Regions from separate parts of the Homo sapiens genome. Here all the other regions are linked to region 1. Evidence: fine-mapped expression QTL. A gene starts in region 1. Each other region holds a variant in brackets. All regions are shown on one strand. Distances are between the middles of the regions.

Region 1 (6,096 bases):
ATCTGCAGTGTGAATGAGGCCTGCTCTCCCTGCTATCCCCATGCTGAAAGACACGAAGACACACACACACACACACACACACACACAAAGGCTGGCAGGTGACCCAAGGGTCATCATGTCCCTGCCCTTCCCTGCCCTGTGCCAGCCACCGCTCATCTACCAAGGCCACCCCTGGAGCTTCCCTGGCTGGGGCTCTTCTGATCTAACCTCAGTCCCTCCTGCTGCAGGCACTGCCCTCTCCCTCTGGTGCGGAACCCCGGCAACCAGGTACCACCCATTAACCCTTTTCCTCCCAAGTCAGATGAGGACAAGAGGGATGATGCCCCTCCTTGACAGCTTGACCCATGGGAAGATGTGAGGCCTGGAGGACACTCCACTTCCCACCACCTCACCAGGCGCCCCAGTACCTGCCCTCCCCCAGGCCCCACCCACCATTTCAGCCTCTGGGCTCAGACTCCCAGGGTCTGCTTGATCTGCCACCCAACACTGGGTCTGAGCCACACCTCTCAGATTCAGGTCACCCGTGTTGCGAGGCCCTACTGTGCATGAGGCTATTAAATGCTCTCACTAAGTCCTTCCACCACCTCGTGGAGTATGAATTATTAGCCTTATTCAGCAAGGAAAGTGGCCTGCCCAGCGCTCCACCTGGCCTCCAAGTCTAAAGCTTTCTGTCCTGAGCCCCTTTCATTCATGTGCACACCACATGACTCCTGAGCTCCTTCTCAGGACACTCGTCAGTCATCCCATTGAATTTTTGCCCTCTGAGGAAGGGGTCATTAGCCCCATTTCACAGAGGGACAACCAAGGGTCAGAGAAGTAAGAGGACCTGCCCAAACCATGCCACGAATCGGCGGGGGTAGCAGGATTGGAACCCAGGGTTGTGTGATTCCCAAGCCTTTGATTTTAAGGATGGTCTTTCAGAAATTTGGCTGAGAAGGCGACCCCAGCTGCTAGGGTGTGCTGGGTCTCTATCCCTCCCAGGGACCTCTTCCTCTCACCCCACTTAGGGGAGAGCTGGGAATGAGACATCCTGGCCAGCAGGCACTTCACACAGGTCAGCCCTCAACACTTCCCCTCCCTCCAGCTGACAGCCCCCTAGATGGGGAAGGCTGAGGAGGGGCCTGTCCATCCAAGAAGCAAGCTTGGAGCCCCTGCCTGTCCTCCTCCTGTCTTACTGACTGGCCCACTGAGGCTGGGAAAGGGAAGGAACTTGCAGAGGGCGGCTGGGCACCCAGTGTTGCTTGAGAGGCCTGGGTCCTTTTCAGCCTGGGGGATGCAGGACAGCATAGCTCCTGGAACCAACCTGGGAGGCTGGACCTAGAAATCCCCAGCCCGCCTGAGCCAGAACCTGGACACTTGTCCAACAAGAACTCATCTGGGGCCTGGATCCCTCAAAGGGGGATGAGGTCCTTCCTTTCTCTGCCATCCCTGACGGAGCTGGGACCAAGCATGGCTGCTACGGTCACTCAAAGGGACACTCAAGGGTCACCTCATACATACCATCACCTCCACCTGCACATGCTTGGTTCCCCTCAGGGGTCCTCGTCCTATGTCCAGGGTCCCCCATGCACCTGCATGCACACGCTGCTATGTGCACTCACACACATTCATGGGTCCAAGCACACGCCCACCAGAGGTCTTTCACACACACACCCTCACCCACTGCAGCCACACACGGCCATAGCCAACAGTGGCCCAGCCAGGCACAGGCACACATCATGCACAATGGGTCACCCTCCCACGACCACGGACGGGAGGGCACGCTGGCATCCACCCATGTGGCAGACACATCCTTCACCTGCACACGCCCCACAGGTCCCCGCACCCCTCACTGAGTTGGCCACACACGCCCACACACGCCCACACACAGGGTTACCCTCACTCCCCCCTCAGGTCACCTTCACCAAGTCACCCTCCACCTCCACCTCCCCTTCCCGGGCCCACTGCCCTGGCCGGCTGCCGCGACCCTGGGAAGAACCAAATGCACACCCTCCCCTCGGAAGGGGAACCGATCCGATTCCCAAAAAGTGGCCATGGTCTGGGCACACCCACGAGGCAAAAGCCAGGCTCACTCCCACCCCAAGACACACCCAGCCGGGACGGCGACCCCCAGCCCGCCGCCGGGTCCTTCTCGCGCCTCCCAGGCCAGCGCAGGGGTCCCGCTTCGTCCCCGGGGAGACAGTTCCCGGAGCCACTGGGAGGTGGGGGAACAGGGCTGAGGACCCGCGATCGGGTTCCCTCCCGGGATTCCCTCTGGGGAGGGGTCCCAAAAGGAAGGAGAGATGCGCCCCCCGAAGATGACCAGCGGCGGGGGCGGCCTCTCCCCGCGGATGCCAGCTAGGGGGAGATTCCGGAGGGGGGGGAGCAGGGTGCAGAAAGGGGCGCTCGGGGGAGGGTCGAGGGGTGGCAGGGACCGCGGCCCCGGGGGAAGCAGCCGGGGGGGAGGGAGCGGGGTCCCGGAGGGGGGGTCGCGGGCGGGGACCGGCACCCCGCGCGGGGGGCGGCCCCGGGGAGCCGTGGCGGGGATCCGGGCGCGTGTCACTCACCCCCGCGGCGCGCCCCGCCAGCAGCAGCAGCAGCAGCGGTGGCAGGAGCAGCCCGCGGGCCCCGGGCCCGGCCGCGGCCCCGGCCCCGGCGCCGGCCCCGTGGGCGGCCCCGGCACGGTGCGGCGGCCCCGGCTTCATGGCGGCGGCGCGGGCGCGGGCGGCGGGCGGCGGGCGGGCGCCTTTGTTCCCGAGGCGCGGCGCGCGGGGCGGCTGCTTGGCGGCGGCGCGGCCCGGCGGCTGGACCGACGCGCTCTAGGCTCGCGGGCTCCCGGCTCGGCCGCCCGGCTCCGCCTCGCAGCTCCGCGCCCACAGCGGCCGCGCCCGCAGGAAGCGTGCGCCGCCGCCGCCGCCGCCGGGCCGCCCCCAGCGCGGGCGGAACGGAGGAGGGGCCCGGGGCGGGGCGGGCCCCAGTGCGCCCCCCGCGGGGCTCCGCGCCCTCTGACCCCAGTCCCAGCCCCCGCCCCCACCCAGAGGGAGCCCCGCGCTGCCGAGTGGGCACCCGGACACCTGAGTGAGCAGCCGGCCTCGCCGATCCCGGGGCTGGAGGTCGCGGAGCCCGCCGGACGCACCTCCGCGGCCGCCGTGCTAGGTAGAAGGGAAGGGTCCCGCGTGGGATACCAGGGCCCGGGCCTGGCTCCCTGAAGTCGCCGAGCGGAGGGGTCGCATGGGCGTTTTCATCTACAGCCTCCCCCTGTGGCTCCACGCACGTGTCTCTTCCTGGACTCCCATCGTCACCCTCACACACTCAGCCAGTCCACCCAGTGGGCCAGAGGTCATCCAAGACCACGGGCTTTCATGCCTCCAGGACACCCAGGGGCTGTGTGACCTCAGATCAGGGCCCGGCCCTCTCTGGGCCTCGGTCTCCCCAGGGGACCATGGGGGTGGTCACTTCTGGGCCCTGTCACTGTGGATCTGCAGAGGAAAAGCCACGCAGACCTGAGCGCAGCTGCTTCCACACCAGCTGTGCGCCTCCAGCAAGGCCCCCAGTTCTCTGAGACTCAGACCCCCCATGGTTGAATGGGACCACCCCCTCCAGTGCAGGATGGCGAGAAAAGTACATCTCTGAGTGGCAGTCTCTAGCGCTGGTGGTCTTTCTACCCTGTGTGGTCACGGTGCCTTTTCCCCCTTCACCTTCATCCCCAGCGGCATACCCCATGCTGTTCTTACTTCTCCAAGTCTCCAATGGCGTGTTAGCTCCAGCGGGGGCAGGGTTTTGTGTCTGTCTTGTTCACTGCTATGTCCCCAGCACCAGCACAGAGCTCGGCATGACATCGATGCTCAATCCAAATTTGCTGAATCAATGAATGTGTTTCCCATTTACTGGGGCTCAAAACCAAGTGTTTTGGGGCAAGATAGGGGAGAGTGAAACATTTCTGGAACCCTGACCACATGCCAGGTGCCCAGCGCTTTCATGTGTTATATCATTTCTCAGGAACCCCATAAGGTCGGTCTGTCAATATCTTCACTTCTTAGGTGGGGAAGCTGAGAGCCAGCAAGAAGAGGTTATTTGCTGATGACAGCTGGCTGGACGTCTCTACCCTCAGTTACTCTCCTCTCTGGCCCCTGTGTCCCAGCACCCAGCTTAGAGCCTGCCATTAGAAAATAGGAATGAAATCAGGCCGGTCGTGGTGGCTCACGCCTGTAATCCCACCACGTTGGGAGGCCGAGGCGGGTGGATCACGAGGTCAGGAGATCCTGGCCAACATGGTGAAACCCCGTCTCTACTAACAATACAAAAAAATTAGCCGGGCGTGGTGGCGGGCGCCTGTAGTCCCAGCTACCAGGAGGGTGAGGCAGGAGAATGGCATGAACCCGGGAGGCGGAGCTTGCAGTGAGCCGAGATCGCGCCACTGCACTCCAGCCTGGGCGACAGAGCGAGACTCCTTCTCAAAAACAAAAAAAAAAAAAAAAAGAAAAGAAAAGAAAATAGGGGAACGAAATTGAGTTGAAACTGGAACAATTCCCTCAAGGAAAGGGGAACCAAAACCAGGATGAATGGAGGGGCAGGCCTTGAGGAAGAGACTCTGGGGGACCAGCCATGGGTTTTTGGTGTTGGGGGTAACTGTACTTGTCCTGCAGGGCCCTTGGGAGGAGGACCAGGGGACAAAGGTCAACTCAACATAAAGTAGAGATAAATTAGAAGGGGCTCCCCAGGAGGGAGGGAGAGCCCAGTCCCTAAAGGGTATGAAAGGCAAGCTCACCACCCTTTGACAGGGATCCTGGACAGGGAAGACAGGGAGACTTTCGAACTAGGAATTCTGAGGTCCCAGCCTCTGAAAATTCAATTCTCAAATCTTTTGGCATGACATCAATGCTCGATCCAAATTTGACTGGCACCTTGGGGAGATGGGCAGGGAGGCTGATGGGGTGCAATAGGTGGGAAACTGGTTTCTGTTGAGGTAGCACAGCTTGGAATTGAAGAGCTCTGGCTCTGGGTCGGCCAAGTATCTGGGTTCAAATCCCAGTTCTGCCAGTTATGAGCTGTATTGTGTTGGATGTGTGACTTAACCTCTCTGAGCCTCAATTTCCCAACTGTAATATAGAGATAATGACCACGCAGAGTTCATTCATTCATTCATTTAGCAAGCATAAATTGGGTGCCTGCTGTGTGCCAGGCCAGGTACCAGGTTGTGAGGATTACATGAGCTCTTCCCTGCCATCGTAATGGAGTTCAATGAAGGTGGCTGGGAATGAAGCTTACAAAGGAAGGGACTCAGATGTAGGGATAACATCATCCTTCAGAGATGCTGAGCAGATCCCAGGAACATACCAACCCTGAGGCGCTCCCAAAGGGCCAGCAGGGTTAGGGTGGGGATTATGAGGAGCCAGATGTCAGCTGGCCACAGACAGCAGTGGCAATTCTAAGAGGCAGTAAGTATCCTGTCTTGAGAGGTATTCAAGGCTCGGAGAACTATCTAGCAGGGAGACCATTAGGATGGTTTCCATGAGTAAGATGGGCAGTGAGCATGGCCCATCTTCAGAGGTTCCTGCCAGCTCTGAGACTTCTGGAAGCAGCAACTCCACTTCCCTGACATCCTGGGGAAGAGGTGGGGGCGGGGCAGTGGAGAATCTTTGGTCTGGACAGGCCAGGAGCGCCACCTGCTGCTCTTCAAAGACACTGGTCACAGCCAGAACTAAGACAGGTCTGGGCCCCTGAAGGTCCTTCTCATCTTGCTCCCCCCGGGTCCCAGGTCTCCCTGGGGTTCACAGATGCACACATTTCCTGCCCTCAAGCACATGGGTCATCTGCACAGTCACCCTTGCCCAGGCCTCCTTGTGCATTGGAGCCACATCCCCACATACTCAGGGTCTCCCTTCATAGCACCATAACCTCACCCACAGGCACCAGCTGCTGCCGCCTCCTGGCACAATAGTCACAGCCCCCTCCGGCCTTTAGAATACACACTGCCTCCTCTGGGAAGTCTTCCTGATGTCCTCTGGGTGATCAGGCCTGGTCCTGTCCTGCCGGCATCCTGATCACACTCATCCTGCACTCCCCACCCTGCTTTCAGTCCCTACTGTCTGTCTTGCTCAAAAGTGGGAGCATTCA
Region 2 (6,096 bases), 160 kb after region 1:
GTCACCCAGGCTGGAGTTCAGTGGTGATTACTGCTCACTGTAACCTCAAACTCCTGGGCTCAAGCAATCCTACTGCCTCGGCCTCCCAAAATTCAAATTCAACAACTCCATAAGATGTTGTATTCGGAAATCCAGCGCTTGAGCCAGACAAGAAATCATTTACTTAATCTCTCTGAGCCTCCATTTTCTCCCCTATAACATGGGTCTAATAGAATAGCACTGAATGAAATAAAGCTGATAAAGCATTTAGCCCCATCGGGCCAGGACATTGCAAAGTGCTGGTAACTATAATAGGAAAACCTGCAGGGGGAAATTGAGCAAATGAGCACACATGAGAAAGTTACAAAGATTTCAGTTTTCAGAACCTTACCACACGTTCTGTGCTCCATGATTTCATTCTGAGATCCATGACTAACTCCTTAGGTTTTGTTTGTTTGTTTGTTTTGAGCCAGAGCCTCGCTCTGTCGCCCAGGCTAGAGTACAGTGGCGTGACCTCAGCCCCCTGGGTTCAAGCAATTCTCCTGCCTCAGTATTCCTAGTAGCTGGGATTACAGGCCTGCGCTACCACACCCAACTGATTTTTGTATTTTTAGTAGAGACGGGGTTTCACCATGTTGGCCAGGCTGGTCTCGAACTCCTGACCTCAAGTGATCTGCCCGCCTCAGCCTCCCAAAGTACTGGGATCACAGGCGTGAGCCACCGTGTCCAGCCACTCCTTAGTTTTAACTTTAGCTTTTATTATTCAGGTGTAGAGATTCTTTTTTTCTTTTTTTCTTTTTCTTTTTTTTTCTTTTTTTTTTTTTTTGAGATGGAGTTTTGCTCTTGTTGCCCAGGCTGGAGTGCAATGGCATGACCTCGGCTCACTTCAACTTCCGCCTCCCGGGTTGAGGCAATTCTCCTACCTCAGCCTCCGGAGTAGCTGGGATTACAGGCACCCGCCACCATGCCAGGCTAATTTTTTGTATTTTTAGTAGAGATGGAGTTTCACTATGTTGGCCAGGCTGGTCTCGAACTCCTGACCTCAGGTGATCCACCCGCCTCGCCCTCCCAAAGTGCTGGGATTACAGGCGTGAACCACCTCACCAGGCCTGGTGTATAGATTCTAAAGTCAGTTTAGCCACAGCCACGTGGAACCAACCTTCAGCTGCCTCCCCATCCAGTCAAATGATGCAATCCCAACAGAACACTTGACACTCATCCATAGATTTCCCTTAAAGAATTACCTTCCAGGGCCTGAGGCACCAGCTCAGCACCCAAATAATCCTATCAGAGCAGTGCCTCCAACAAACACTAGAGACTGTCCTGTTAGCAAATGTTTACCTGTGCCACACACCGTGTTAAGACTTCTATAATTGCCTGGCGCGGTGGTTCACGCCTGTAATCCCAGCACTTTGGGAGGCTGAGGCAGGCAGATCGCTTGAGCTCAGGAGTCTGAGATCAGCCTGGGCAACATGACAGAACTCTGTACTAAAAAGTACAAAAATTAGCCTGTAATCCCAGCATTTTGGGATGCCAAGGCATGCAGATCACTTGAGGTCAGGAGTTCAAGACCAGCCTGCCGGTGTGGCAAAATCCTGCCTCTACTAAAAATACAAAAAAATTAGCCAGGTGTGGTGCTGCATGCCTGTAATTCCAGCTACTGAGGAGGCTAAGGCAGGAGAATTTCTTGAACCTGGGAGGCAGAGGTTGCAGTGAGCAGAGATCACACCACTGCTCTCTAGCCTGGGTGATAGAGCAAGACTCTGTCAAAAACAAACAAACAAACAAACAAAAAAGACTTTTATAGTCATTATTTCATTTAAAACTCCCAAAATATCTATGACATGGACAAAATTATTATTCCCATTTCCCATGAGAAAACTGGCTGGGCATGGTGGCTTATGGCCTGTAATCCCCAATTGCTTGAGCTCAGGAGTTCAAGACCAGCTTGGGCAGCATAGTGAGATCCCCATCTCTACAAAAACAATTTAAAAATTAAAAAAATTAGCCAGGCATGGTGGTGCATACCCGTGGTCCCAGCTACTCAGGAGGCTGAGGTGGGAGGATGGCGTTGCAGTCTTTCTGCTCCTTAGCTCAGCTAGGTCTGAGTTCTTTACCTAGAAAAAGGAAAAATTAGGAATATGGACACTGGAGAGTGAGTGGAGTAGAATTTATTAAGCAAAAGGAAAGCTCTCAGCAGAGGGGATGTGAGGGGTGGTTCCCCTACCCTACTTGAAAGCGGGCAAGTCCCCCAGGTGGTTGGGTCTGGGGCCCTTTATGGACTTAGAATGGAGAGTGTGTGCTGACTGGTTTGTGAGTATGCAAAAAAGGTTCAAGTAAAGACACCACTCAAAGGTGGGCACAACAGTGTAGAAAAACCAATTAGGAAAGGGTAGGTATATGTAAAACAGGTGAAGGGTGGGGCCCAATCAGAGGAAAGTACACCAAACAGGAAGAAAGTTCTCAATACAGTCGGAGGATTTAACTTGTAGCTTGGGCTTCAGGCTTTAAACGGTCTTCAGCTTGGAGGTGGGGTTTCACCCGGGACTCACCCTTATCTGCCTAGGCATTTGTCTGCCTCCTGCCACTCTCACTGGCTTAGGCCCTGGAGGTCAAGGATGCAGTGAGCCATGATGACACCACTGCTTGCCAGCCTGGGCAACAGAGACTCTGTCTCTAAAAAAATAATAATTTAAACAAAATTAAAAACTAATTTTAAAAAAGATGAGAAAACCAAAACTTGAAGAGGTAAAGGAAACGGATTAGTATTTATCCAAACATTGTCTAAGGCTGTTTGCTGAGTGTTGTCTGATCAAGACAATGTGGAAATCATGTCTAAAACTTGGCAATCTTCTCAATTCATCTGGTTAAGCGGATACATAATAGACAATATCATCAAACTTTGGGGGTTTGTGAAACTTAAAATCTAATCAAGCTGACCCAGGGAGAGGATTAAGGTGGATTTGAGAAGGGTATTTTTATTTATCTAATCAGTAAAACCTAATCCATTCCATTGTAACCTAATCAGAGAATGATAGAAATCTCAAAATAGAAACTTTTAGTGTAGGTCATTCTAGAAAGCCTGGGTTCAGGAATTTTGAATGCTACTTCTTCATAGGGTAGCGGTTCTCAAGGTGTGCTCGGAGGCTTAGTGGTGAATCAGCCAACCTGGCCCTGCTGACCATGAGAACAAAGTCCACAATAGACAACTGTGATACAATTCCACAGATTTTCATTCTCTTACAACCACCTGTACTTGGCTAGTATGTTACTATCATCTGGTATTTGTAAACTGAATGTAAAGCATTCCCAAGTAAAGTTTACATCCCTCAATTTTCAGAAAGGATTTTTCTCTTTGGGGGAGGTGGATATTTTGTTATAAGTGTTTGAGTTGCTTTTTCAACTATGTTACACTTGTGTTCTTCTATTTGTAGAATCTCCCTTGGATGGCACTTCAGTTCATTGTTTTGGTGCTTAGGTAATTGTTACACTGTTAGCATTTCCACTGTCATTTTGTTTCATAGCAAGTCGTGATT[C/A]TTAGAGTGCTTTTCCCATGGGAAAGTAGGAGTGAGGAAGAATTTGGACGTCTGGTATTGGTAACTATGTAATTCTGACCAACGCTGGTAAAATTGGAAAAATATTTTAAAGATCTCTGCTTGATATTATTGGAAAGCCAACAAGGTAGTGAAGAATTACCGAGCCAGGATTTCTGAAAGGAAGGAAACTGAGGGATGTAAACCCCATATTTAGAACTACTTTTCCAGGTGAGGTATTTCCTGACAGATAGCTAAGACGGTGAATGGTGTTTGGTCTTTGTTTTTGTCAAAGACTTGTTTGAGATCTGGAGTGGTGTTTTTATTTTATTTTGTTTTTTTGTTATTTGTTTATTTGTTTATTTATTTTTGAGGCAACATCTCACAGTGTCACCTAGCCTGGAGTGCAGTGGCACCATCATGGCCCACTGAAGCCTCAACCTCCCAGTCTCAAGCAATCTTCCCACCTCAGCCTCCTGAGCAGCTGGGACTACAGGCAGGCACCATCACACCCAGCTAATTTTTCAGTTTTTTGTAGAGACAGAGTCCCACTGTGTTGCCCAGGCTGGTCTCCAACTCCTGGTCTCAGGTGATCTGCCCACCTTGGCCTCCCAAAGTGTTGTGAACCACAATACCCAGCGTATTTTGACTTTTTTTTTTTAATTTATTTTATTTTGACACAGGCTCTCTCTCTGGCACAATCATGGCTCACTGCAGCCTCGATCTCCTGGGCCCAGGTGATCCTCCTGCCTCAGCCTCCCCATTAGCTGGGACTACAGGCATGTACCACCACACCTTCCTAATTTTTTTATTTTTATTCTGTAGAGCAAAAGTCTCACTGTGTTGACCAGGCTGATTTTGAACTCCTGGGTTCAAGATATCTTCCTGCTTTGGCCTCCCAAAGTGCTGGGATTACAGGCATGAGCCACCATGCCCAGCTATTTTATTTATTTATTTATTTATTTAGGGATGGAGTCTTACTCTGTTGCCCAGGCTGGAGTGCAGTGGCGCGATGTTGGCTCACTACAACCTCTGCCTCCCAGGTTCAAGTGATTCTTCCTCAGCCTCCTCCTGAGTAGCTGAGATTACAGGCACCTGCCACCACAGCCAGTTAAATTTTTTTTTTTTTTAATTTAGACGGAGTCTAGCTCTGTCACCCAGGCTGGAGTGCACTGACACAATCTCGGCTCAGCCTCCCGGGTTCACACCATTCTCCTGCCTCAGCCTCCCAAGTAGCTGGGACTACAGGCACCTGCCACCACGCCCAGCTAATTTTTTGTGTTTTTAGTAGAGACTTTCTCCATGTTGGTCAGGCTGGTCTTGAACTCCTGACCTCAGGTGATCCACCCACCTTGGCCTCCCAAAGTGCTGGGATTACAGGCATAAGCCACCTCACCTGGTCTTTTTTTTTTTTTTTTTTTTTTAGATGGATTCTCGCTCTGTCGCCAGGCTGGAGTGCAGTGGCGTGATCTCGGCTCACTGCAACCTCTGCAGGGATCAAGGGATTCTCCTGCCTCAGCCTCCCGAGTAGTTGGGACTACAGGTGCACACCACCATGCCCAGCTAATTTTTGTATTTTTAGTAGAGACAGGGTTTCACCATGTTGGCAGGATGGTCTTGATTTCTTGACCTCGAGATCCACCAGCCTTGGCCTCCCAAAGTCCTGGGATTACAGATGTGAGCCACCAAGCCCAGCCTAATTTTTATATTTTTAGTAGAGACAGGATTTTGTCATGTTGGCCAGGCTGGTCTCAAACTCCTGACCTCAGGTGATTCGCCTGGTTCGGCCTCCCAAAGTGCTGGGATTATAGGCATGAGCCATGGCACCTGGCAGTATTTATAACTTTTAAACCAGAAGAAGAAAACTTTGTTGTGAAAAGAACAAAAACAATGTACAGTAAATAGGAGATATAAAATATAGCAGAAAAAAGTCTTAAGAGTAATTCCAATAAATATAGAAGGGTTAAACTTACCACTAAATACAAGAATGCTATGATGGGGCTGGCTGGGCATGGTGGTGCACTCCTGTAATCCCAACATTTTGGGAGGCCAAGGCAGATGGATCACTTGAGGTCAGGAGTTGGAGACAAGCATGGCCAACATAGTGAAACCCCATCTCCACTAAAAATACAAAAATTAGCCTGGGCATGGTGGTGCGCGCCTGTCATCCCAGCTACTTGGGAGGCTGAGGTGGGAGAATCACTTGAACCCGGGAGGCGGAGCTTGCAGTGAGCTGAGATCGTGCCACTGCACTCCAGCCTGGGAGACAGAGCAAGACGCCATCTCAAAAAAAAAAAAAGCTATGATTGGGTAAGATTATAAGAGGGATAGTTAAAAATAAATACCACCTAAATATGAACCTAAAGAAAGCGAGTATAAAAATGTAAATATGTGATATGATAAACTTAGGTTTAAAAATATCAATAAGGGCTACTCTGTATGATAGTATACAAGTGGACATGGCTGGGCCCAGTGGCTCACGCCTGTAATCCCAACACTTTGGGAGGCAGAGGCAGGCGGATCACCTGAGGTCAGGAGTTCAAGACCAGCATGGCCAACATGGTGAAACCCCGTCTCTATTAAA
Region 3 (6,096 bases), 80 kb after region 1:
CTGATTTTTTTTTTTGGAGACAGAGTGAGACTCTGTCCCCGGGGCTGGAGTGCAGTGGTGCGATCTTGGCTCACTGCAACCTCCGCCTCCTGGGTTCAAGCGATTCTCCTGTCTCAGCCTCTGGAGTAGCTGGGATTACAGGCTTGCGCCACCACACCTGGCTAATTTTTGTATTTTTACTAGAGACGGGGTTTCACCATGTTGGCCAGGCTGATCTCAAACTCCTGACCTTGGGTGTCCTGCCAGCCTCAGCCTCCCAAAGCGCTGGGATTACAGGCATGAGCCACCATGCTTGGCCTCTTATGTGTAAAAATAAAATAGCTGCCCTACCTCGTGGGGTTGTTTTCAGGGTTCACAGAGAAAATCCCTTCGAAACAGTAAAAGCACTATATCAATGATGGGATTCTAAAATTTTAAGAAAAAGGTTTATTTTGGAGTCATTCCTCAGCATATGAAATTTGTGAAATCTTGTTACTGCTTGAAGCTTCTAGATAAAAGCCCAGTTTATACCAGGTTATTTGAACTACTGCAATGATCAACTAATGATTACAATGATTTTTCGTAGGCGCATACAAATTAAACCATGCTGCTAAACTAAAAAAAAAAAATCATCATCATCATCATCTGTGCATTTCTTTGGCAGATGAAGAATCTGATTCCAAAACAAATGATTTCTAAGGTCCTAGGGAAGAACAAAACACATCCCTTCACTAAGTATTATTAATACTTTTTGAGAAAAACTTCACCATAAGTAAAATTTGAACGAAGTCAAATAACAATAGAAGTTAAGCTTCAACTGATCAATTACTAGTCACTCTTTGTCAGTTACTATACACATGACACTTGATAGAATAATCATTTGTAAGTTAAAGAGAAAGTTGAGCATATTAAATACCTACATTAAAAGTATATACACACTTGGCCTCACGAGAATGACATTTAATCACACTGCCACACTTTTAACACATGCCGATTTCCACTCCCCTCTGACTGTGGTCGTGCAGGAATGAATACCATACTTCAACTTTCATTTTCAGAATATTGAATCTTTGTTAAAATTCATGCTTAACAGATGAGTTTTAGTACAACAGTGTCCAATTTTGTGAAACATACTACATTAGGCTATTTTTAGATTAACTGAATTCTAAATAAAGATCAACAATACAATTAATTCTACACTGATATAATCCTGGCTTTGGTTTGTGCCATGTTTGTAACATAATACAACCTAGTAACAAATTTTTTTTTTTTTTTTTTTAAGACGGCGTCTCACTCTGTCGCCCAGGCTGGAGTGCAGTGGCGTGATCTCAGCTCACTGCAACCTCCGCCTCCTGGGTTCAGGTGATTCTCCTGCCTCAGCCTCCCGAGTAGCTGGGACTACAGGCGTGTGCTACCACGCCCGGCTAATTTTTGTATTTTTAGTAGAAAGGGGATTTCACCATATTGGCCAGGCTGCTCTCGAACTCCTGACCTCATGATCTGCCCGCCTCGGCCTCCCAAAGTGCTGAGATTACAGGCGTGAGCCACCGCGCCTAGCCAAAACCTAGTAATAATTTTCTAAACTGCATTTAAGGAAACAGGCAACTGTATAGCATTTTGTAAAAAATAAATACTGCTCCAACATCACAGTACAAAATGGTATGAACACATTATGCATGAACTGCTCACAGCTGTTTTCCAGGATTAAGAAGACAATGAAGTGAATTTGAGACAAAGGAAGAACATTTTAGAAATAACAACGAGCATTTCAAGCTGACAAAATACTCCAAGTCAGAGGTTCTGAACCCAAGATATTTGTACTTGGGTGGGTAATACTGCATCTTTATCTCATGCACATTTACCTGAAATTTAGCATGTTCTTCAATTATGATTGTAGACAACAAACTACATTAACTTTAGCAATATACCTGTGACATTATCACAAACAGAAATCACATATACTTTCATGTTACTTTACAGTTGTTACAAGTATCTCAACATCTTACTTGTGCTCATTATGACAGCTAGTACATCTACTTCTATTTCATGCATCATATCATAAATAAGTAAATATATAATTAACTTTGTTTTTAAATATGACAGCTATTTTTATACCACTGGTTTCCTTTGTAATCCTACTTTATACATTTTAAACATTATTCTGAGAAGTAGTCCACATGGTTCACTTATTAAGAAGTTCACGGCACACACAAAAACAAACAAAAAAGAATTAGAAACTCCTGCTCTTATAAATAAACCTTACAAGGGTTAAATTCAGAGTGATTAACAGTGACCAGACAACCAACTGACTCATCAAAATCCCATGTCACAGCTAACAAGAACTAAGTTTGCAATGAATTAAATGAAAATTACCTTTTCCCTATTTGCAGGCTGCTCCATGTCATGTATCTCATTATAGGCTGATAATAAGTTTGATGAAACCAGCTTATTACACCAAATCAAAGCCAAGATTGAAAGAAAATATAACAAAAGAGAGAATTACTTATTTTGTCAACCTCCAAACCAGATTCCTATTCTAAAAAATCACAAATAAAGCAAACCTACCATTTGCAGCAAACTCTAAACCAAGAAAAATGATCACCTTTGTTGCTTATTTCAGAAAGCCAAGATAAAAAGAGCAGAATGTGCAGAAAA[G/A]TATGTGCTGCACTAGACCTCTGGTCCAACCCTCACAATCATCAGTACTGTCTGAGACTTCCAGCTGGTTCTCAAGGCCTCCGGGACTCAATTTTCAAAGGCATCTGTACCTCCTTGTCCTCTTGTACACTCGTCTTCTACTCTCTTCAGCCTAGGACTACACCACAGTCATTCCCAGCTCCATACCTCTGCTCTGACCTGCAACAAAATGTATTCCACCTGTCCTTCAAGTCAGTTGCATGCAACCTTTGTCCTCATTGAGCCCTCCCCTTGTCTGATAAGATTCAGAACCCATTAATTTAGCACTTAGTTCCCCAAATATTCCACTACTGTTTCATTCAGAACCCAAGGTTCCTAGAAGGACACAACAGTCAACAGTTAACTGAATAATAAGAGTAAGAGAATGCCTCAAACTGCTGCTAAACTCACACTAACCACAAAAAAAACAAACTATAATAATTAAGTAATTCCTGCTTTAAAGTGTCTTCTCATTTCCTATAGGCAACACAGCATAAGACTCACAACACCATCTCTTCAACCTCTCTAGTTATTTTTCTTCAACCTAACCACCAACCAGACTGACTACTTCTACATTATCTACTGAACACATATCTGTTTTACTATTTCCTCCACTAGAATTCTCATTTTCTTCGTATATAAAAAAGTCTTTCAAGGCACAGCTAAAGAACTACCTCTTCTGGCTGGGCGCAGTGGCTCATGCCTGTAATCTCAGCACTTTGGGAGGCCAAGGCGGGCAGATCACCTGAGGTCAGGAGTTCGAAACCAGCCTGGCCAGTAAGGCGAAACCCCATCTCTACCAAAACTACAAAAATTAGCCAGGCACAGTGGTGGGTGTCTGTAGTCCCAGCTACTCGGGAGGCTGAGGCAGGAGAATCGCTTGAACCCAGGAGGCGGAAGTTGCAGTGAGCCAAGATCGTACCACTGAACTCCAGCCTGGGCAAAAGAGTGAGACTCCGTCTCAAAAAAAAAAAAAAAAAAAAAAAAAAAAGAACCACTTCTTCCACAAAGTCCTTCCCTTCCCAAGAGACCAGAGTACACTCTCCATAGTTGCAGGGTTCCAAGAATATGGGCATAAATGGTCTCATCACTTGTCATCGAGTACTTCCATGCACAATTTAAATGATAAAGTGAGTTACAATGACTAACCTGAGAGCAAATCAAGAAGAAGAAAGGGAATCTTACTCTATTCATGAAAGATATGGTTGGCTACAAAGAACAAAAGATATGAACAGAAGGCTGTATCTGTAGAACACAAATCTGTGGTCTCCCTGAAGTTATCTACAAAACTGAGTGTCAGAGAATTATGTACATTTTTCTCATGAGAGAGACCATGGCTTCTGATCAGATGACAACAGAGTGAGCCTTAAAATATTAAGTTCTGATCCAAGAAGTAACTTTCCTGGATATTATACAGCATAGTTATTTGTATATAAGTGGTAAGCTGGATCCAAAGGACACACATATTAGAAAACACGGTAGTTCTCAAAGAGTAGCCTCCAGACCTCCTGAAAGGCTAGTTTCAAATTTTAATTTTGGGAAGCATATTACGTACAGAGGATGCACTGAGATATTATAATAGGGATGGGGGAAAGTCCCCTGAAACCTTGTTCTGCTAAAGCAATGCAGAGGAAATGGGGTAAGGTTCAGTCTTTGCCCTCAAGGAGCTTACAATCTGGCAAGGACTATTAGACGAGTAATCACAACACAAGACAAAACATGGTAACACCTTCTCTTAAAGGAAACACAAAATGCTATGGAGTTCTAGGGAGGCAGACATGACAGCTTTTTGGTTTGGAGACTAAGAAAGGAAGGTGACAGTACTGAACCTTGACAAATGAGGTGGACGTAAATTAGAAATGAAAAGTGGAATAAAATGTAATGAAAACTAAAAGGATAAGGGATAAAATGTAAGAAACAAACACCAATTTCCAATAGAAAAGGAATCGTTCCTTCTTGACAACTACTAGCTCTTATACAGGAACACCGAGAGATTGAGGGTCTTAAAGATATAGGAGGCTTACGCCAGTGGTTCCCAGGTATGCTATTAGGGCCCCCGGTACAAGAATGTATAAAACAAACTACTCAGAAAAGAATTATGGCCCATGAGATAAAACAACACTCACATCATGACAGTGGTATGTCTGTGTAAAAATGCCTCTATGTTGCAGCAACCAAGACATGCACAGGAAACCTGAATCCAACAAGAGATTAACTTTCAAAATAATGTTTACTTTCAATAACTGCTGAGATATATGGTGAGGGCACCCTTGGTTTTATATTTTTGAATAAGTGGTAGCTATGATGTAATCATGCTAACTACTTGTGGGTACATAGAAGTACATTTCTGTTCAAGTTCTAATAATTGTCCAGTCTCCAAAAACTGGTAAAATTATTTTGAAACCAAAGATCAATAAATCAAAAAAGAATATCAACTCTGATTATGAAGTAAAGAACAGTTTAAAAAAAAAAGAGAGAACCATATATTTTTGTTCATAAGAAATCTGAGACAAACCCTTCTTAAAAAACACAGAAAGTGTTAGATTGCATTACACTGGGAATGGAAGCTAAGAACCAAAAATGGCCATAAAGAGAAAAAAAGCACAGAGAGTCAATTCATATGGGGAGGCAGGCATACCTACTAAGAACTGCACGGAGAAGAGTGTACACTTTCAGTTTACTCTCTCTGAAAGATATTTTGTTAATTTAACCTTATATGAATATGCACATTCACACAATCCCTTAAAGGTATTTATTGTTCATAAACGACACAGGAGACTTAAAGGGAAACTTCATATGTTTAACTTTTTACTCTATCAATCAAAATTCATTTAGTATCAGCTATTTATGACAATAACTAAAGGTACAACACGGCATAATAATCTCCAAAGACCATAAGCTAATTTCCCTACATAGAATTTCTAAACTTCAAAATGAGATGCTAACCTTTCAAACCTAGAAGTCTGCATTAACGATCTATTACAAAACTACTAAAGAGTAACAGAAATTCATGGTCAATCAAACTGCTTCCGCCACAAGGGAGAACTTAACAAGATTGGGAAACTAACAGCCCCTCTTTTGTAGTTCAGACAGCTGACCTTTCTTTAAAAAATAAATAAATAAACACAGAGATCAGTTAATCCTAGAGGTAGTCCTACATGTCTTCAAAAACAGAAGGTAGACATACAACATCTTCAGGGACTTATGAATTTAAAAAAAGAAAAAGAGCCAAGCAATTTCATGGTAGATTTTAAGTTGAATGATTTGTGTGTGTGGTTTCCTCTGATCGCATTCTAATACTTTTGAAAGATGCCAGATCCTTGTCTATGCTATCTGGAGTAACTTGTTTAACTGTAAGACACAACTGGTAAGATGACCTGGCACTACACTCCTGACAGCGGTGGATAGTAGAGTTTACTATTTTAAAAACAAAACAAACCAACA
Region 4 (6,096 bases), 53 kb before region 1:
TGTTGGACCGGGGTGAGATCAGGGAGGACTTCCCAGACCCAGTGACAGAGTGTGCTTTAGAAAAGAGCCTAGGCCGGGTGTGGTGGCTCGTGCCTATAATCTCAACACTTTGGGAGGCCATGGCAAGAGGATAACTTGAGCCCAAGAGTTGGAGACCAGCCTGGGCTACACAACAAGACCCTGACTCTACCAAAAAAAAAAGTTCTTTAATTAGCCAGGCATAATGGTGCACGCCTGTGGTCCCAGCTACTCTAAAGGCTGAGGCCAGAGGATCATGTGTGCCCAGGAGTTCAAGAACAGAAGAGAAGGAAACCAACAGAGTAGAGAGGGTAAGAGTCCCAGCTGATCCAGGTGCTCCTGAGCCGATACCATCCCATGCCTGCCAGGGGTGAAGCCGGTGCAGCCCATTTTTCATGTATTCTGGTTGGGTTTCTGGTACCGAAACTAGAAGAGACCTGACTAGCACAGTCCCCTTCTTCATTATTTCTCCCATCTGTCCTTGCCCCATCACCATCGCCTACACAGCCCCCTCCCCACCATAGGCTCTGTTCCACCTACCTCTCCCTCCTCCCCAAATCCATCCTCCAGAGCCCCTGCCTTCCGCCTTCAGTCCTGCATGACCAACCCTCCCCAGAAGGGGCTGTCCTGGGCTCTACTGGCAGCTGAAGGTCAGATTTCACAAGAGGGGCCTCTGGGTTGTATTCAAGGCTGGAAGCTCTGGAAGTAATGGGAAGAGAGAGTGGCTGCAGGCAGCCCACAAGGCTTGGCTTCAGGCCTGGGTAGAGAACCTAGCCTTCTCTCTGTTAGCAGGCACCAATAGAGCTGGCCTGCCCTGGGTCAGGCTTGGGTACCTCTGCCCCATTTGAAAGCATCAACCCCTTCTCTAGTCTCTCGGCCTCCAGTCTCTCTCCCCTCCAACCCATCGTGCATTCTGTGGCCAGAGAGAGCTTCCAAAAACGCAAATCTGACAATGTCACTGCCCTCCCCACAGAACTCTGACAGCTCCCTGTGCCCTAGGAGATAATAGCCTTTAGTCTGGTTATTAGCTAGGATATAGGTTGAGCTTCTAAAGCAGAGACCCAAAATAACTCTGGCTTAAAGAAGAGAGAAGTTTCTTTATCCCTCATATAATAATTTACATATCAACCATTAAAGGCTGGTGCTCCTTGGCATAGGGGACCCAAGTTCCTTCTGTCTTGTTAAGCTGTTGTCATTCCGTGTTGCCCTCATTCACATGTTCAAGATGGGACCACCTGCACCTTCCGCCAATGGTAGGGGAAAAGGGACGGGGCAGGCACACCACTATCAAAGGGAAACAGCCTACACTTCTGCTCGCATCCTATTGGCCACGTTAGTCACATGGCCCCACCTGGCTGCAAAGCACGCTGGGAAACGTAGTCTTTCTTCCAAGCTTCCATGTGTTATGGATATGAAAGGAAAAACAGATATCATTGCAAAGCCAGCAGTCTCTGCCACATCCTGGCATTTGGGGTTCTTCATATCTTTGCACATGCTGTGCACCACTGCCCACCTCCCTCTTTCTACCTCCTGAGTGCCTGTTCATTTGTAAAGACTCAGCTCAGGCCGGGCAAGGTGGCTCACACCTGTAATCCCAGCACTTTGGGAGACTGAGGCGGGTTGATCACTTGAGGTCAGGAGTTCGAGACCAGCCTGGCCAACATGATGAAACCCCATCTCTACTAAAAATACAAAAATTAGCTGGGCGTGGTGTGCGTGCTTGTAATCCCAGCTACTCAGGAGGCTGAGGCACAAGAATCGCTTGAACCTTGGAGGCGGAGGCTGTAGTGAGCCGAGATCACACCACTGCACTTCAGCCTGGGCGACAGAACGAGACTCTGTCTCAAAAAAAAAAAGACTCAGCTCAAATGGCCCCTATTCTGGGAAGCCTTTCTTGACTACCACCTCCCCAGCCTGGAGGAAGAGTCTTCATGTTCATTGATGACATGGTGTCATGTGTAAGGAAGGATTCATCTCCCCCCCTAGATTGGAAACAACGTCAGGACAGAGACTGCAACTGATTCAATTCTGAGTCCCCCTGACCAACACCAAGACTGAAATGGATGGGCATTTGGAAATACAGAATGAATGAATGAAAAAATGAGTGAGTAAATGAACTATTTGAATGAGAAAATATTAACTGAGAAGTGATGATTGATTGAGTGAATGATTGTTGGCCCAAGGAGACACCTGAGCATTGATGGTGCACTGATTAGACAGGCAGGACTTCCCTGGGGGTCTTATCTCCTCATAGGCAGGTACTTCTGCCGGAAATGCTCTTCCCTTTGGTGACTGTCTAGCTCCTGCTCAACCCTTACATCTCATCTTAAATTCACCTTCTGAGAGAGGGCTTCCTTGCCTCACTCCTCCCTCACTCCAACCGCACTCTTCCCTCCTGCACAGTCCACAGACCACCGTCCTTCCACTGAAGCACTCAGAAAAACTGACACTAAGTATATGCCATGTACTAGTTTGTCCATGAGACTAGGAGCTCCATGAGGACAGGGTCAGGTCTGTCTCTCCCACTGTTGTGTCCCCAGCCTGGCACAGTGCTGGACAGAGTAGCTGTCCACTAAAAGTTAAATGAGAACCCAACTTCTTAGAGTGCATCTAAAAGGATTGACATTTGGCCCCAAGAAGGGCCAGGATAATGTTTGTGGCATAAATGTGTAGGTGGCAGCCTCAGCTCTGCCTGGCGGGTGGCACTAGGAGTCTGTGCCCAGAGGTGGCCTGGCTGAGGGACCTGTGGGGACAAGAGACAAGCAGAAAAACTGCCCACAAGCATCTGATCACAGAGCCGTGGGTACGGTTGGCTATATAGAGAATAACCAAGGGTTGGGAGCCACACTTTCACCTTGACTGCTGGAGAGAGAGGGGCTTGCTGGAAAGTGGGAGACATTGTGATGCAGATGGCAAGTTACTTAACTGCTGTGTGCCTCCGTTTCCTCATGCAGAGGGAGTTAACAAGAGCACCTTCCTCATGGCATTGTCGTGAAGACTAAAAGATTAACCCATGTAAAGTGCCAGGGCTTGGTTCACTGTCAATGTTTGCAGATCACATGAAGGGGCAATAAAAATATCTGTGCTCCCAGGTCAGACAGAGCCCTTGCTGAGCCTCAGTTTTCTCACCTGTAAAGTGGGACCACCAATATTTAACCCCAGGGGCTTGGAAAGATGCAGTGAGACAAGGCTGTAAGGGGATTGGCACTGTGCCTGGCACCAGGGAATCCTCAACCCTTCCCCTGAGACAGAGAGAAGAGTGGTGGGTGTAGAGAATGCCTGCCTGCCTCGCCTGCCATAGGCACGAGCCTGGTGAAGTGGGGAGGCCCCCTGGTGACTAATCTCGTTAATAGTAATCATCACCCTGGTTCTCATTAATATAATAACACTGGGCTCCCAGCC[G/A]CCGCCTGGCTCCAGCGCTGGCTCCTCGGTGCCTCTCATCTCTGCCTGGCGGGGGGCTCTGCAAACACTCATTACACTCCAGTCCCTGGGGAGGCCGCCAGGAGAAGCAGCTATTCCAGGCACACAGCTCAACTCTGGGCCGCAGGCTCTGTTTTTAATAAGCACCATCGTACACACTCGAGCACACACACACACTCACATGCACACACAGGTGCTCACACACACAATTGTGCAGCACTTTGCAAGCTCTTCACTGACCATTAATTATAATTGCTCACAATGACTAAGCCTTATGTGATAACAATGATCGTGGATGCCTGCTAAACACTTCCACTTGCCAGGAACAGTTCTAAGTGCTCGCTCCACTTGTATTAACCCATCTCATCTAAATGAGCATTCCTGTTGTTTCCATTTTGCAGCTTCGGAAACTGAAGTACCCGAAGGTTATGAGACTTACCCCAAATCACCGACCCGTGGAGCCACAGAGCTAGGATCCGAATGTTTAACACTGTCTCAAAAGATATTAGTTCCTCAAGTCAATCCTCATGGTGATTCCGTCCTTATTCTCCCCATTGCACCAGTGAAGATGTGGGCCCAGAGAAATGATGTCCTTTACCCAGGAACACACAGTCAGGGAGGCCTGACCAGAGTGGCGGCCTTACCACTCCCCAGTGGTGGAAGTAGGAAGGGAAATACTATTTCCCTTTTAAAATGGGAGAAACTGAGCCCCAGAGAGGTTACACAGGGATTGGTGGAGCCCTGGCCCCCTCTTCTTGCCTCCCACCCTCACCCCCACCTCTCATCCTCCCACCCTTACCCCCACCTTGGAGACCTTAATTAAGACACAGACCAGCTGGCTTGGCCATGGGGGACTCAGTGTCAGAGGCCCTCAGGCCACCTGGGGCTCCCTCCAGGCCACTGATGTTCTGTGCCACCACCTCCTAGCTGCATGTCCCTGGACAAGTCACATCACCTCTCTGGGCCTGGTTTTCCTCAAAATGGGGAAAAAAGCTGACACTTAGGGAGCATTTACAATGTTCCAGGCCTATTCTATGTACATTCCACATAGTATCTCTCTTTTTTTCATCTTTTTGAGACAGAGTCTCACTCTGTCACCAGGCTGGAGTGCAGTGGCGCAATCTCGGCTCACTGCAACCTCCGCCTCCCGGGTTCAAGCGCTTCTCCTGCCTCAGCCTCCCTAGTAGCTCAGAGTACAGGTGGGCGCCACCATGCCCAGCTAATTTTTTGTATTTTTAGTAGAGACAGGGTTTCACCATTTTGGCCACTATGGTCTCGATCTCTTGACCTCAGGATCCAACCACCTTGGCCTCCCAAAGTGCTGAGATTACAGGCGTGAGCCACTGCACCCACCTTCCATGTAGTATTTCATTTTGTTCTCACCACAACCCCAGAAGGAAGATATTAAAAGAGTCTGTGGTTTTTTAAGATTCTGTTATTCTATAGAATAGAATTCTGATTCCCACAGAGTCTGTTATGAAAGATTCCACGATCTTAGAAAGATTCCATTATTCTGGGATTCTCAGGTACTGGAAGTTTCCATCATTTTATAGATCATGGTGTTAAAGAATTTAATGAAATGGTGATTCGTTGCACCTCAAGGGCAAGAGGCAATTTGTCAGCCCTTGGACAGCCTTAAAGGCCACCACTGTCCACCCCCTGCCCCTGTCCCCTCCCTCAGCTATGATATCAGAGCCAGCCAAGGCAGAACAACCTGTCTCTATGGCACGGCCTTGAGTGTAAGGTCAGTGAGGACTGTGGAGACCGCCAGAGCGCTTGGTGGGTGACTCGGCGGACAAAGGGCTCTGTGCACCCGCCTCTGCTGTCCTGGCTGGGCCTCACACACAATGGAAGGACCTTTCGAAGCTGCACCCAGCCTGCCCCCTCCCTCAGCAAGAGACACCCAGAGATGCAGCTGAGCTCAGTCTCAGAGCAGGCCCCCTCCCTGCTCAAAAGGTCCACAGAGAGGAGGTGGGAAGGACAGGTCACAGAAAGGGAAGAGTGTCCCCACTCTTTCTTAGCTACCAATGGTTCCCACCTCTCTACCTTTGCCCATGCTGTTCACCCTGCCTGGCATTCCCCTCTCCCTCTACAAATCCTTCAAGAGCCCCCTCAAGTCCTACTTCCTCCAACAAGGCCTGCCCAGTTATTCTACCCCACCCCCACCCCATTTCCTCTTTCTCCAAAGTCCTGTTGGGTGGTTTTGGGGGCTCACATGGGGCTCAGAGACTCCCGTCTCTCCTTTCCTGTCTGTCCTCCCTGCTACCACCAGAGTGATCTTCCTGGAACACAAATGTGGACTTGTCACGCTCTTTCTACAGATGCAGACTCAGAAGTGTGGTATGCAAAACTTCCCAACTCAGGCCCCATTCTTTGTGTCTGGCTTCAATTTCTGCCTCAAATCCATGCGCTAAAGCTTGGCCAGATGAAGTGGGGATCTGCCCTCCAGACACATGGTCACGTGGGCAGCCCTTCTGAGACTGGAACAGCTGAGACCCTGCCTTGATCGCAAGACACAGGCACTGAGGGTCTCCTTCCCCACCCAACTTCACACACACACACACACACACACACACACACACACACACACTCTTAGGCCGCCACCAGGGAGCCCACTGGGCTTGCAATGGTGTGTGTTAGTACCATGGACAGTGCTGG
Region 5 (6,096 bases), 81 kb before region 1:
AAAGGGATACAGAGCCAGGACCTGAAAGAGCCAGATGAGGAACGGTGGGGAAGGGATTCTCAGCAGAGGGGACAGCCTGCGCAAAGACTGGAGGCAGTAAAAAGCAAGGAACACTCGAGGCACTATGGCAGGAAATTAGATGGTGGGGTTCGGGGTGTTGGAGAGGAGGAGGAGTTTAAAGTAAAGCTGAAAGGGGAAGCAGGAACAAGATCCCAAAGGGCTTGAATGTCGTGCTAAGGGATCTTGGACCACATTCTCAGGCAGTTGGGGGATGGAAGGGGAGAGGGCTATGATTAGGTTTGCATTTTAGGAAGATCTCCACTCTTGCAGCTGTGTGGAGGATGGGCTGGAGGGGACTAGGAGACCAGTCATTGCAGGGACTGGGGAAAGTCAGGGCAGGGGGGACTAAGGCTACCCGAGCTGGAGTAGAGATGGAGAGACCCAAACTCAGGAGGAGGTGTAAAGGACGTGGAGCCATAGTTCAGGTGACTGAGGAGATGGCACCAACTCACCTGGGAGGCTCTGAGGGCTTCTCTGGCAGCCAGATAGGATCACCGCTCTCCTTCCATATGATATTTGTGTCAGCTTGTGTATGCAACTTTCGTTTCAAGAATCATGCTGCATTGAAAAGATGTCTATCTCTTTTCACATCTCCCCACCCTCTACACACACACACACACACACACACACACACACACACACAGAGGCTGTGATTCACCTCCGTTCCCAGCACTCAACACAGAGCTTCATCCCAAGTACGCTTCCACAAATCCAAACCCCCATCAGCCCCCTCCCCATTACCCTTACCCCAGCCTCCACCCACCCCTCCCAGCCTCTGCACTTCCTTTCCAACCTCCATGCACCTGCTTCCCATCTCTTTAGTCATGTCGTAGCCACCACCTAGGAGCTGGGACTGCCCCCCTGCTCACCATGTCTGCCCTTCCTATCACCCCTCAGCAGGGAGGAAAAGTTGCCTATCTGTTGGGTCAGATTTCTGAAGACTGATGAGGCCCATTTTCTGGTAAGCGGGGTCATTACAGTGCAATCATTGGGTTGTTATGAGAATTAAATAAGGTTTGTTGCCTGGCACATGTAACTATCCAATCAATCAGCTATAGTAATGGCATTATTATGGGTGTTAGAGGAGGATGGAGAGGGCTGGTGAGGACTCCAGTGTGGCATAGCCCTGCTTTGGGATACCGGTGTTTGCTTCACTCATTACAGAGTGGTGTCTTGACTTCTCATTTGTCACACGTACTTGTTATTCACTCTCTCGAGGAAAAACATGAAACAAAGTAGATGGTGGGACAAGAGTCCTGGGTTTTTATTTTTATTATTATTATTATTATTTTTGAGACAGAGTCTCACTCTTGTCACCCAGGCTGGAGTGAAATGACATGATCTCAGCTCACTGAAACTTCTGCCTCCCAGGTTCAAGCAATTCTCCTGCCTCAGCCTCGCGAGTAGCTGGGATTACAGGTAGGTGCCACCAAGCCCGGCTAATTTTTGTATTTTTAGTAGAGATGGGGTTTTGCCATGTTGGCCAGGCTGGTCTCAAACTCCTGACCTCAAGTGAACCACCTGCCTCGGCCTCCCAGAGTGCTGGGATTACAGGCATCAGCCACCATGCCCAGCTGAGTCCTGGATTTTTGTCATAATACCACATGAATACCGTCAAACTCTCACGGAAATCCCTGATGCAGTGGTTACAGATGTCCTCTCCCAATGAATCAAGACAGGACAATTGAGTGGCTTCTTAAATGTCAAAAGAATCAACTCAGATCTTCCAATTAAGGAACCTTCAGGATGTCAGAGCTGGCAATGCCCTTAGAATCCTCTTATTCAACCTTTGGTTTGACATATGAGGAAACTGAGGGCCAGAGAAGGCAAGTGACTGCTCAGAGTCACACAGTTGGGTTGACCAGCAGAACCAGAGTCTTTTTAGGCACCCAGTTTCCCCCTCACTGCACTTTCCCAAATCCGGTCTGTCTTGCAACTGAACAGTGACTAGAACCTCCTCTAGCCAGGGCACATGTAGGCCCTTCACATACTGTTACATTAAACATTCACGACAGCCCTGCAGGATGGCTATTGTTAATCCTATCTGAAAGGTCCAGAGAGAGAAAGTATCTCCTCCAAGACCACACAGTGTTACTGAATTGAACCCAGGCCTGTCAGGTTCCAAGGCCCATGTTCTTGGCATAGCAATGTGTTGACTCTAGGACTGCTCAGGTGGTTTATTTAGAACTTGTGGGCATCAGAGTGATTTGCCAATATAATCACTAAAAGAAGAGGTGAATCTGCTACTTGATGAAAACAAAAGAGGGCCTAGAATCTTCTGCACATCAGTGCTTCATGTACCTGCCCTGTTGTGTGGAAGCGCTCCTCTAAAAGCAGTAGGAGTCAAAGGGTTATGCCCCATCTGAGGGTATAGAAGAGAACCAGCTAGGCTTGGGCATATTTTCTGAGTGAGGCACCACCACCCAAGTTCTCTGAGTAGAGGGTCCTCGGAAGGAGACACAGGAGAGTGTGTTTTTATTTTTATTTTTATTTTGAGATGGATTCTCATTCTGCTGCCCAGGCTGGAGTGCAATGGCATGATCTTGGCTCACTGCAACCTCCACTCCCAGGTTCAAGCGATTCTCCTGCCTCAGCCTCCCAAGTAGATGGGATTACCAGTGTCTGCCACAATGCCCAGCTAATTTTTTGTATTTTTAGTAGAGACACGGTTTCACCATGTTGGCCAGGCTGGTCTTGAACTCCTGACCTCAAGTGATCTACCCACCTCCGCCTCCTAAAGTGTTGGGATTACAGGCTAGAGTATGTTTTAATGAGGTCTCTGCATGAGTATGGATCTTGAAGTGATCATAGGTTCAGGATCTCTTGCAGAAAGGGCCAAGTGGGTGATATCTATAAGGACAAATCAACTGCATTAACTTCATTGTCACTGGAGGCTCCCACAGCACAGTGCCCTACAGCCTTTTCCAGCCTTTGATGGAGGAAGGGCAGTGTCCCTCAGCACTGGAAGAGATGCCATCCTTTATAGCAAAAAAATGGATTGTTCTACATCTTCAAGAGGTTCTATTTCTAGCTCTAGAAAACACTATGA[CTG/C]TTGATCAGCAAAAAATTTTGCTGTATCTGGCTCTGGAAATATCTCTGTCCTTGGCTCTGGAAAATGTTCCAGAGACATTTATAGTCCCACAACATTGTTGGCTCTAGGGAAAACTCCATGGCTCCAGAGGACTTTCTGCTCCTAGTTTTGGAATTCTGCAACCTGTTTCTGGAAGACCCTTCCTCACCGGTTTTGCACTGTCCTGCCCTCCTGGCTCCAGATTATCCAATCCCATTTCTGGAGGACACTCTGACTGTGAAGCCAAAGAACTCTCTATACATGGCTCTGGAGGGCTGATTCTCTGTAAAGATGGAGAACCACTTGACTGGCCTGGAAGACTGACTGTCCATACTCTTCTTCCAAGATCTGGACTTGACATCCCTGGCCCAAAAAGATTGACTATATAGGGACCTGAAGGGCCTCTCTAGCTGACATGCTGTAATATCATATTTCACAAGTGCTGTCTTGACCCAGTTTTGAGATCCTGGCTAAAACCTCTCAATTCCTCCTTGTGGGCACTTTGCTCAGCCTACACCTTAACCCCTCCAAACTCTAGGCATGGAGCTGTCTGTGCCCCTGGATCTAGACAACTCTTTGGAATAACCTTCATTCCTGGCTTCTGGAGTAGGAGGGGGAAATTTGGATAGATTGGAGGGATGGGAAGGTAAGAGGAAGCACGGAATGGTTGCTGTGGCATCTGTTCTGATCAGCAACCTGAGCTGGATTTAAGTTCCATGGTCACAGGTTAGCGGCCACAATTGTTCAAATTTCATTTACATGAGCAGCCTGATGAGGTTCTGGGTTCAACAGGAAGAACTAATTTTGGTTCTGCAGTGCATGAGGCCTAGAGTGGGGGAAATGGAAGCTGTTCTCCCCATAGCTGTTGACCCCAGCAAGGTTCATGGAGTCTGAAGGTGAGGCATACTGGCCAAGATGTGCAGCATGATGGGCCCCGGCCAAGCCACTTTATGGCCAAAAACATGGACAAGCGGAGCCAGGGCAGAAAAGAGGGCACATGACAAAATTCCCATGAGGTCTGCAGTCAGGGCCATTCAAAGGCCTTTCTTACCGTGCCAAACACCCATACCCCATTCCTGGCCTTCTACATTCCTCCTGGAATCACCAGCCCTAGAAGTTTAAAAATTGCATCTCCCGGCCAGGCACAGTGGCTCACACCTGTAATCCCAGCATTTTGGGAGGCCGAGGCAGGCAGATCACGAGGTCAGGAGTTCGAGACCAGCCTGACCAAAATGGTGAAACCCCACCTCTACTAAAAATACAAAACTTAGCCGGCCATGGTGGTGCATCCCTATAATCCCAGCTACTCGGGAGGCTGAGGCAGGAGAATCGCTTGAACCCGGGAGGCAGAGGTTGCAGTGAGCCGAGATCGCACTACTGCACTCCAGCCCGGGTGACAGAGTGAGAGTCTGTCTCAAAAATAAAAAAAAATTACATTTCCCAGATATCCTTCGAGTTGGATTTCGACTGGGTTCTGCCAGTGGGATGTATCCATGCGAGATTCTGGAACTAACATCAGAGAGAGTCCAAGCTTCTAACTTTTATCAGCGGCAGTGACAATAGTCAAGCAGCATTGATGGTGAGTACAGGCTTGTGAGCCCAAAATGACATCACATTTCTTTTTCACTCCACTGGTCCTTCCAACGTTTCTATAACCAATTCCCTAAATTAAATCACTTTGTCTGATGTACCTAGAGTGGTTTCTGTTTACCTGACACTTATCGAAGATTTATGAGTGCCTACTGTGTTCTAAGATGTTCTAAGAACTAGGACTGTGAGACTGAACAAGAGTGGAATAGTGGATGGGGTCAGAGAGATTGGCAGAAGCAAAGCCATACAGGACCTTTTAAGCCATAGGAAGAAGTTTGGGTTTCAGTCTGATTTCAATGCTAAGAGCCTCTTATTCAGGGAAGGGAAGGATGTGATTTATGACTTGGGCTCTATGACAGATGAAGTCTAGCAGGCTGTAATAGAAAGGAGGGAGAGAGGGGGCTATTTGAAGACTTCAAGCTGGAGATGACAGACTGAAGCTGGTGGGGAGGGGTTTACTGTTATAACATTAGGGTCTGATGATGGTAGGACGGACACACTGACCTCTGATGAGATGAAAAGCAGAACTCTATTACTTACAGCATCAAGTGGGAGAAAGTTGCCATGCGGGGCCGTGTCCCTACATGCAACCCCCTGGTTGCACCCAGGACAGGGGAACAGCAAGCTGGAATGTAGGAGGCAGCTTCTCTATGGCAAGTGGAGTGGGGTTAGCAGGTGTAGGGGCTTCCTGTGGGTTGGGAATTTTGAGTGATTTCACAGACCCAAGGAAGAAGTATTCATCCCTTGATGTTTAGCAAATAATTCCTGGAAGTTGTGTGTATTGTTGTGACCCAAGAGTGTTAGAGCCCAGTAAGGAAAGGGGTTGGGGTGCAGGCTGAGCAAAGTGCCCGCAAAGAGGAATTGAGAGTTTTTCGCCAAGATCTCAAAATTGGGTCAAGAGAGCCCTTGTGAAATATGGTATAACAGCGTGCTAGCTAGAGAGCTGTGGGCGTGATCAGGATCTGCTTTAGAGGTAGAGCTGACGGGACTTCCAATGGACTGGACGTGAGAGAAAGAGGAATCTTGACCATGGACTTCCAGAATCAGAGGGCTCTGATTTTGAAACCATGCTTCTCATCAGATACAAATAAAGATGTTTGATAACTTTTTTTTTTTTTTTTTGAGACGGACTCTCACTCTGTTACCAGGCTGGAGTGCAGTGGCGGCATCTCGGCTCACTGCAACCTCCACCTGCCAGGTTCAAGCAATTCTCCTGCCTCAGCCTCCCGAGTAGCTGGGACTACAGGCACAAGCCACACACCCAGCTAATTTTTGTATTTTTAGCACAGACGGGGTTTCACTATGTTGGCCAGGATGGTCTCGATCTCTTGACCTCGTGATCCGCCCCCCTCGGCCTCCCAAAGTACTAAGATTAC

Which allele goes with the higher level. Alleles are on the strand shown, and positions count from the first base shown. SD is a standard deviation of normalised expression in the study named. Not every link is listed here.
As copies of A replace G in region 4, the expression in pancreas of the gene that starts at base 2,856 in region 1 goes down (small effect, 0.30 SD a copy in GTEx).
In carriers of allele C in region 5, the expression in tibial artery of the gene that starts at base 2,856 in region 1 tends to be higher than with CTG alone (large effect, 0.82 SD a copy in GTEx).

Evidence for each region.
Region 2: its variant is fine-mapped to the expression of SDC3 in monocytes (TOPMed, PIP above 0.99).
Region 3: its variant is fine-mapped to the expression of SDC3 in whole blood (INTERVAL, PIP above 0.99).
Region 4: its variant is fine-mapped to the expression of SDC3 in pancreas (GTEx, PIP 0.95).
Region 5: its variant is fine-mapped to the expression of SDC3 in tibial artery (GTEx, PIP above 0.99). The same link has a PIP of 0.9 or more in aorta.

Annotation. Positions count from the first base shown.
Region 1 is chr1:30,905,903-30,911,998 of GRCh38, forward strand. SDC3 (syndecan 3) reads right to left here and starts at 2,856. Exons shown (of 5, transcript NM_014654.4): 1 at 2,547-2,856. The coding sequence starts at 2,684. RefSeq lists a silencer at 2,811-2,900.
Region 2 is chr1:31,070,086-31,076,181 of GRCh38, forward strand. No RefSeq gene overlaps it. Among named protein-coding and RNA genes, the nearest start is that of PUM1, 7.4 kb to the left of the region's middle. The variant C/A (reference allele first, on the strand shown) is at 3,516.
Region 3 is chr1:30,985,957-30,992,052 of GRCh38, forward strand. All of the region lies in intron 7 of PUM1 (pumilio RNA binding family member 1), which reads right to left. Among named protein-coding and RNA genes, the nearest start is that of SNORD103C, 21 kb to the left of the region's middle. RefSeq lists an enhancer at 1-175. The variant G/A (reference allele first, on the strand shown) is at 2,635.
Region 4 is chr1:30,852,958-30,859,053 of GRCh38, forward strand. LOC400748 (a long non-coding RNA gene) reads left to right here and starts at 5,223. Exons shown (of 2, transcript NR_188385.1): 1 at 5,223-5,409; 2 at 5,760-6,096. RefSeq lists a silencer at 3,345-3,639. The variant G/A (reference allele first, on the strand shown) is at 3,421.
Region 5 is chr1:30,825,174-30,831,269 of GRCh38, forward strand. It overlaps LINC01778 (long intergenic non-protein coding RNA 1778), which reads left to right. Exons shown (of 3, transcript NR_146732.1): 2 at 958-1,021. Among named protein-coding and RNA genes, the nearest start is that of LINC01778, 3.6 kb to the left of the region's middle. The variant CTG/C (reference allele first, on the strand shown) is at 3,110.